2 linked regions of the Homo sapiens genome follow. The protein of the gene in region 1 interacts with the protein of each later gene in a biochemical or structural test. Each region holds a gene or a part of one and is shown on either strand. Other genes may lie near its edges.

Region 1 (3,811 bases):
GGAAGGGAGAGGCCCTTTGTGTGTGTGCGTTTGTGTGTGCACATATGTACGTGTGCATGCCTGTGTGTATTGGGAGGCGCTGGCGTAGGGCCTGGGCATGTGGCTCACACAGGCTTGGGGAGGTGGACATGGAACAGTAGTTAGTTATGTTGCTGGTTTTATGGACGCCTGGGAGGAAGGACATTGTCTGAGCCTCCGTCTGTATCAGGTGGGGCTTGCCATCCCACTCCCAGACCCCCCCGAGTGCCGTGGTGACCCCTCTTGCCCGCCCACAGGGAAGAAGGCCGTGCTGGGTTCCAGTCCTTTCCTGTCCGAGGCCAATGCAGAGCGGATCGTGCGCACGCTCTGCAAGGTGCGTGGTGCGGCACTCAAGCTGGGCCAGATGCTGAGCATCCAGGGTGAGTGGGCGCGGGGGCTGCTGCCCCGGGACTGCGTGGGCTGCTGGGGGGGTCAACTTCCAGGGCCGGGAGCAGTGGCCCCACCAAAGCTCAGTGGGCAAGATGTGAGCAGGCTGGGGAGAGATCTTAGAAGATAATAGGCCTGGTCTCCAGACGGGTGGCTCTGGGTCCAAAGAAACACATGGAATAAAGAGCAGAGAGGAAAAATTGCTCTCTACAGGTGGTCAGAACACAGGTCATTTCAACATTTTACTATGTTTTATTTTCCAAATTTCTTTTGTAATTATGAAAAACTCTGCATGTTGAGTGTAAAAAGCCCACCTTCTCAGGTCACTGGGCGGAGGCTGGGGCTCCCGGGAAGCTGAGTGGCCGAGGGCGTGTGTGCGAGGGCTCCTGTCTTTCTGGCCTCACCCGTGCTCCTGGTGGGGAGGGTGTGGTGGCCAGGGCATCCCAGGAGTGTGCCCGCCCAGGTCCTGGGCGCACACTTTAATCCCCAGGTTCGCCCTGTGTCATTCTCCTGCCTTCCAGATGATGCCTTTATCAACCCCCACCTGGCTAAGATCTTCGAGCGGGTGCGGCAGAGCGCGGACTTCATGCCACTGAAGCAGATGATGGTGAGGAGCCAGGGGCTCTGCCCACTCTCTGTGGCCTCGGCCCCCACTGGGTGGAGGGGACAGACTTGGGGCTTCTCCCGGTGGCCCAGGCAGGGCATGCTCAGAGCCCCTCCCTGGCCCTGCCCTTCAGAAAACTCTCAACAACGACCTGGGCCCCAACTGGCGGGACAAGTTGGAATACTTCGAGGAGCGGCCCTTCGCCGCCGCATCCATTGGGCAGGTGCACTTGGCCCGAATGAAGGGCGGCCGCGAGGTGGCCATGAAGATCCAGGTAGGCGGCCTGATGCGCAGTGCCTGTCCCTATGGGGGCTGCAAGGGGCAGAGCTGGGGCCTGGCTCATGGAGGCCTCTACACCCCACGTCCCGCAGGGCACCCTCTCTCCTGGCAGGGCCATATGTGGTGTCTTCTGGCCCCAGTGCCTGGACGGCACCAGAAGCTTGGGAAGTATTTGCTAAATGAGTGACTTTGGGGGCACAGAGGGGCCCCCAGCAAGCTTGATTTGGGGTGGGCAAGGACAGGGGACAAGTGATTGCTTTTTGGGGCCAGAGCTGGTGGGAGGGTGGCCGTGAGCTGTTCCCAGGGGTGAGGTGAGGCAGGAGTAGGTGGACAACGAGGCTGTGATGGGGTCCAGGTCACGGCAGCATGGCTGGGTCTTAGCTCTGGTTCTCCAGGGTGTGGGCTGGGGCCAGGACACAGCTGGGAAGCCAGTTGGGGGTTGGGGGAGTGCCCCAGGCAGGGCCCACCCGTCTCCCTGGGCTAACTCCCCTGCCTCACCCATACCCCCACAGTACCCTGGCGTGGCCCAGAGCATCAACAGTGATGTCAACAACCTCATGGCCGTGTTGAACATGAGCAACATGCTTCCAGAAGGTCTGAGGCTAGGTGGTTGGGTCAAGGGCAGGAGTGGGTGGCAGGCATCTGTGTTGGGTTCTGGGGACCAGAGGGGGTCCTCCCTGCAGAGCCCCCTTCCTCGCTGATGCCCTCCTCCCTGGCCCAGGCCTGTTCCCCGAGCACCTGATCGACGTGCTGAGGCGGGAGCTGGCCCTGGAGTGTGACTACCAGCGAGAGGCCGCCTGTGCCCGCAAGTTCAGGTGTGGCCCCCGGCCGGGCCCCTTGCGTGTTTGCACCAGGGAGGCAGAAGGGACCATGTTCAGCAGCTGGTGAAGGCCCCTCCAGCTCTGAGGGGCAGAGGGCTGGGGTTGCAGCCTGGGCCGAGGCCATATCCTGCCTGGGGTGAAGGAGGGCCCTCTGCCTGGTTGGGGGGTGTGTGTGGGGGGGGGGACGGTGTGGAGGGCCTGTGGCTAGGGCGTGACCTCCCTCCCCTACCCAGGGACCTGCTGAAGGGCCACCCCTTCTTCTATGTGCCTGAGATTGTGGATGAGCTCTGCAGCCCACATGTGCTGACCACAGAGCTGGTGTCTGGCTTCCCCCTGGACCAGGCCGAAGGGCTCAGCCAGGAGATTCGGAACGAGGTTTGTCTGTGCCAGCAGACAGGTGGGGCCAGGGTGGCCCTGCTGTGTGGCTGTTTGGTGACCTAATAGTGTGAGCTGGGGACTTGGAGCCCTGAGGTGCTCCCTGGGGGTGAGGGGCAGTGAAGTAGCACCAGTGGGACTTAGGGGGACACAGGGGAGCTGCTGCCTTCCCTGGCCCAAGTAACACTGGGAATCAAACAGTCCCTAGGGTAGGGTGGGTAAAACAGGAGGCAGGGGCTTCTCTGGCCCCAGTCTCCCAGGGCACCAGGCAGTGTGGTGCTGCCTGACACAGACCCTTCGCGCTGTCCACAGATCTGCTACAACATCCTGGTTCTGTGCCTGAGGGAGCTGTTCGAGTTCCACTTCATGCAAACAGACCCCAACTGGTCCAACTTCTTCTATGACCCCCAGCAGCACAAGGTGAGCCCCAGGGTGGGGGCACCCGCAGCCAGGCCTGAGAGCTTCTCCGAATGGGGCACGTGAGGCCCTGGACTGCCCCTTGTCCTGGGAAAGTCAGCAGAGAGCTCAGGGCTCTGGGAGTGGGGATCCTCACTGCCCTCTGTTGCACCCCCTTCCCGGCCCCACACACCCGCACCATGGAGCACCAGGGCCAAACTTCTCCTGGTGTCTCTGTCCCCAGGTGGCTCTTTTGGATTTTGGGGCAACGCGGGAATATGACAGATCCTTCACCGACCTCTACATTCAGGTAACTGGAGAGGGGCCCTGGCCTTGGTCCATGTTTTTCTGAGGCTGGGACAGGATGCTGGGGGACTCGGGGTAGGGAGAATGACTGGGTTCCTGCCCTTGTGTCCCCATCTGCGCTGCCTGCCCCTCAGGTCTGGTGACAGCAGGCAGTTAGGCTGACAGCTGCCAGGCGTGGTGTCACAGCACTGGCCGGGGGCCCTGTGCAGGGAGAGGATGAGGGTGGGGTGGGCTCGGGTGTGGCACTTGGCTCCCTGGGATGTCGGGAGCTGAGCTTTTCATGCTGCCCACGGTCCCCTCCTGTGCCTCTCCCCAGATCATCAGGGCTGCTGCCGACAGGGACAGGGAGACTGTGCGGGCGAAATCCATAGAGATGAAGTTCCTCACCGGCTACGAGGTCAAGGTGAGCAGGGTTGCGGGGGATCCCCTGGGCCTGCTGACCCAGGGCCCGGCTCCCTGTGTAAGAATGGATGAAAGCACAGGGGGCAGCTGCCCTCAAGGGGCCCCCAGAGCCCGGGCCTCCTTGGGCACGGTCTGAAAGCTGGGGCCCACCCCGGCCCATGCTGCCCTGCTGAGCGTGAGATTTTCCGAGTGGGCCAGTGAGTTGGGGACTTGTCGTGAAGCT
Region 2 (3,811 bases), on another chromosome or scaffold:
GGCCAACATGACTTCTGCTGTCTACTTCTGGTTAAACTGAGACAGCCAGCCCAGTTTCATCATGGAGGAGGAGCTGTACAAATGTGTGAATACCAGGAGATGTGGGCACTGGGGCCACATGTGGTGTAGCTATCACAGGTGGCAATTCAGAAGGGCTTTTGTGCTTTATCTTACTAACACTTAGCCTGTTTATAAATGAGCACATTGTGAGTTTAGGGATAAATGTAAATAAATGTTTTTCAGATTTCATAAAGTAAAAATTGAGGAATTTTTATGTATTGGGCTAATTTGGCTTATGAGAAATAAAAAGTCCTCTAAATATAGAACTATGGTAATCAGTTTTGGGAGTTTGAACTTGAACTTTATGTACACAGAAACTTGCATGATATACTTTCTGTGTATAGATTATGTTCCCAAATCTTACTAAAATGTTTCCTAGTTTAAATATGAGGTCCACTTGATTGGAGTGAACACTGGCATAGCTTTTCTGGAAAGCAGTTTGATACCAGCAGCATGTGCCCTTCAACTAGCAGCTCTGTGTTTAGGGCTCTTCTGCAGAAACACACATGTAACTGAACGAATACGGGGAAAGACGGTCAATTAAATGCTACTTGTGAAAAAAAGTTACACTACTAAAATGGTTTTAGAGAAGAATGATTATATTATACATTCAGCAGAATATTATGTGGATATTTAAAAGTGCATAAGCTGTCAAATTTTAAAAGTAAGTCTTAGAAGAATTATGTAGGAACAAAATCCATGGTTTTTTTTTTGTTTTTTGTTTTGTTTTTTTGGGTTTTTTTGAGGTGGAGTCTCGCTCTGTTGCTCAGGCTGGAGTGCAGTGGCAAGATCTTGGCTCACTGCACCTCTGCCTCCCAGGTTCAAGTGATTCTCCTGCCTCAGCCTCCCGAGTAGCTGGGAGTACAGGTACGCACAACCACACCTGGCAACTTTTTTTTATTATTAGCAGAGATGGGGTTTCACCATATTGGCCAGGCTGGTCTCAAACTCCTGACCTCGTGATCTGCTTGCCTCAGCCTCCCAAAGTGCTGGGATTACAGGTGTAAGCCACCGTGCCTGGCTGTTTTTTTATGATTATACTGAAGATGTTCAGGAGGCTGCAACCAAATAAAGTTTTTGCCTAGGATGAGGGAGTGGAGATGATGCGACTGGAAATAGGAAGGAGAAAGAGGGTAAAAGAATGGACTTTCATATTTTACTGTCTCCATAGTTAATGTTTGATTTTTTTGTTATATACGTAAAAAGTATGTATTACGTTTCTACTTAAAAAAAATGAAAGAACAGGCTGGGTGCAGTGGCTCATGCCTGTATTCCCAGCATTTTGGGAGGCCAAGGTGGGTGGATCACCTGAGGTCAGGAGCTCAAGACCAGCCTAGCCAACATTGTGAAACCTTGTCTCTACTAAAAATACAAAAATTAGCTAAGCGTGTTGGCAGGCACCTGTAATCCCAGCTACTTTGGAGCCCGAGGCAGGAGAACCGCTTGAACCTGGGAGGTGGAGGTTGCAGTGAGCTGAGATCGCACCACTGTATTCCAGCCTGGGTGACAGAACGAGACTCCACCTAATATAAATTAAAAATAATAAAAAAAGAACAAATGAGAATTTCCTAAGTCTTAGCAGTGTCTCCTTTTCAAGACCTCGTGTGTCCTACTCAGTCCCTGGATCCCACTCTTCAGGGTTCAGTCGTGTTTACAGCACGTAATAATCCCTTGCCAACTACAGTTATTAGATTAAAAATTCAAAGAAAAACTTTTACAGTTACACAGTTTTGCTGTCCCCTTAACCCAACAAACAAAAATACGGTCCTCCAAAGGATATAATGTTAAGTAACTTATTTCTTAAAGTAGAGAACCATTTCTCCAAATTTGGAAATGTTAACAAATTTGACAGATGAGTAAGTTCTGTGATGCATGAGATGGAGAAGTTTTCTTGGGTAGATAAATAAAAACAATTCACTTATAAATCGTACATTCACACAATAGATGTAGTTTAGTGCATTTTTTTATTGGTAAAATTACATCTTCCAGAATTTTTATATCCTCTAGAGAACAATGATTATTTAATCAAAAAGTGCTTGCTATTGGCTTTTACTATTTATTCTTCTCATTTTTGGTATGAGGATTCTCTACCTCCTCTTCTCCCGTAGGCCTCCCTCAAATAGAAACAAAACACCCAACACATTCAAATTACATTTGCAAGTAAAATCAGAAAAATAAGTCATTTTTGAGTGAAAGAGCTCTTTATTCTAGTTATTGGCATGTATGCTGTAAGTTTAGAAAGAAATTTCATCAAGACTCAGCTCTAGTAGACGTCCTGTTTCCTGGGAGCTTCTCTGATTTGAAGGGTTGCTCTGCTGATGCTGCTTTTGTTAGTAGTTTACCACTTTTCATCAACATTGAACTGTGTCACACCTCAGGGTTCATTTATCCCCATTAGTCTGAGATTTATTGTTAGACTTGAGGCTAAACCGTTAATGTTAGATGCTTGTAAGATGCGGTGTTGCTAAAGTAGAGATTTATAATAATAATTACCAGATCTGAAAATACATGTGATTATACGAAATCCTGCCGAATGTTTACAGGCTCTATGTGAACTGGAGATTTTTACGAGGCATTGAGGCTCAATTCTTGGCTCTGCAGAAAGGATTTAATGAAGTAATTCCACAACATCTGCTGAAGACATTTGATGAGAAGGAGTTAGAGGTTAGTGCATTAGTATTATAACATCACTAGTGTAACAAGGAAGGATTGGGAATTATTTTGTTACTTAGTTTTAGAGGAAAGCATATTTCTGGTGCTTTCTAAGTTTCATGGTTCTATGCTTGAGAATTCTTATTCACAGGAAAAGTCTTTCATGCTTTTGAAGGCCTTTCATGCTTTGGAATTTCTGTGAGTGAACAATCTGTCTCTCTCTCTCTTTTTTTTTTTCTGAGACAGGGTCTCACTCTGTCACCCAGGCTGGGGTGCAGTGGTGCAATCATGGCTCACTGCAGCCTTGACCTCCTGGGCTCAAATGATCCTTCAGCCCCTCAAGTAGCTGAGACTACAAGCATGCACCAGCACCCCTGGCTAATTTTTTTGTTTTTTTTGGTAGAGACAGGGTTTTGCCATGTTTCCCAGGGTGGTCTCAAACTCCTGAGCTCAAGTGATCCGCCTGCCTTGGCCTCCCAAAGTGCTAGGATTATAGGCTTGAGCCACCATGCCCAGCTGTGAGCAGTCTCTCTTATATTGTGAAAATTTTTAATTTATTTTTCTATCCTGTACTTTCTTGTTTTAAACAGATTTCGTGACTTATATGTACATTCTTCCAATATATGTCTATTCCCTAACTTAGTGGTTACTGATTTAGTTAAGTAAAACCTCATTAATCTACCATTTTGAAATTTATTTGGGTAAGAGCCTACTCTGAATTAGTTTTACACTAAGCTTGCAAGAAAGCATTTGATAGACAAGATCATCGAGAAAATAACTAAAACACCTAGGATAAATTGAATCTAAATGTCTCTCTCTTTTTTTTTTTTTTTTTTTTGGAGACAGAGTTGCCCAGGCTGGAGGGCAGTGGCACTGCAACCTCCACCTCCTGGATTCAAGTGATTCTCCTGCCTCAGCCTCCCAAGTAGCTGGGACTACAGGCACCTGCCACCACGTCCAGCTAATTTTTGTATTTTTAGTAGAAACGGGGTTTCACCATGTTGGCCAGGCTGGCCTGGGACTCCTGACCTCAAATAATCCACCCACCTCGGCCTTCCACAGTGCTGGGATTACAGGTGTGAGCCACCGCACCTGGCCT

What was found.
Region 2: the proteins of COQ8A (region 1) and SMURF2 interact in a surface display test, tested with the Homo sapiens proteins (one large-scale study listed by IntAct).

Annotation. Positions count from the first base shown.
Region 1 is NC_000001.11:226,981,752-226,985,562, forward strand, and holds part of COQ8A (atypical kinase COQ8A, mitochondrial), read left to right. Parts: intron 1-275; coding exon 276-398; intron 399-926; coding exon 927-1,012; intron 1,013-1,142; coding exon 1,143-1,283; intron 1,284-1,800; coding exon 1,801-1,882; intron 1,883-2,009; coding exon 2,010-2,103; intron 2,104-2,342; coding exon 2,343-2,484; intron 2,485-2,796; coding exon 2,797-2,904; intron 2,905-3,124; coding exon 3,125-3,190; intron 3,191-3,502; coding exon 3,503-3,589; intron 3,590-3,811. UniProt on the Homo sapiens protein: Atypical kinase involved in the biosynthesis of coenzyme Q, also named ubiquinone, an essential lipid-soluble electron transporter for aerobic cellular respiration.
Region 2 is NC_000017.11:64,550,497-64,554,307, reverse strand, and holds part of SMURF2 (E3 ubiquitin-protein ligase SMURF2), read left to right. Parts: intron 1-2,603; coding exon 2,604-2,724; intron 2,725-3,811. UniProt on the Homo sapiens protein: E3 ubiquitin-protein ligase which accepts ubiquitin from an E2 ubiquitin-conjugating enzyme in the form of a thioester and then directly transfers the ubiquitin to targeted substrates.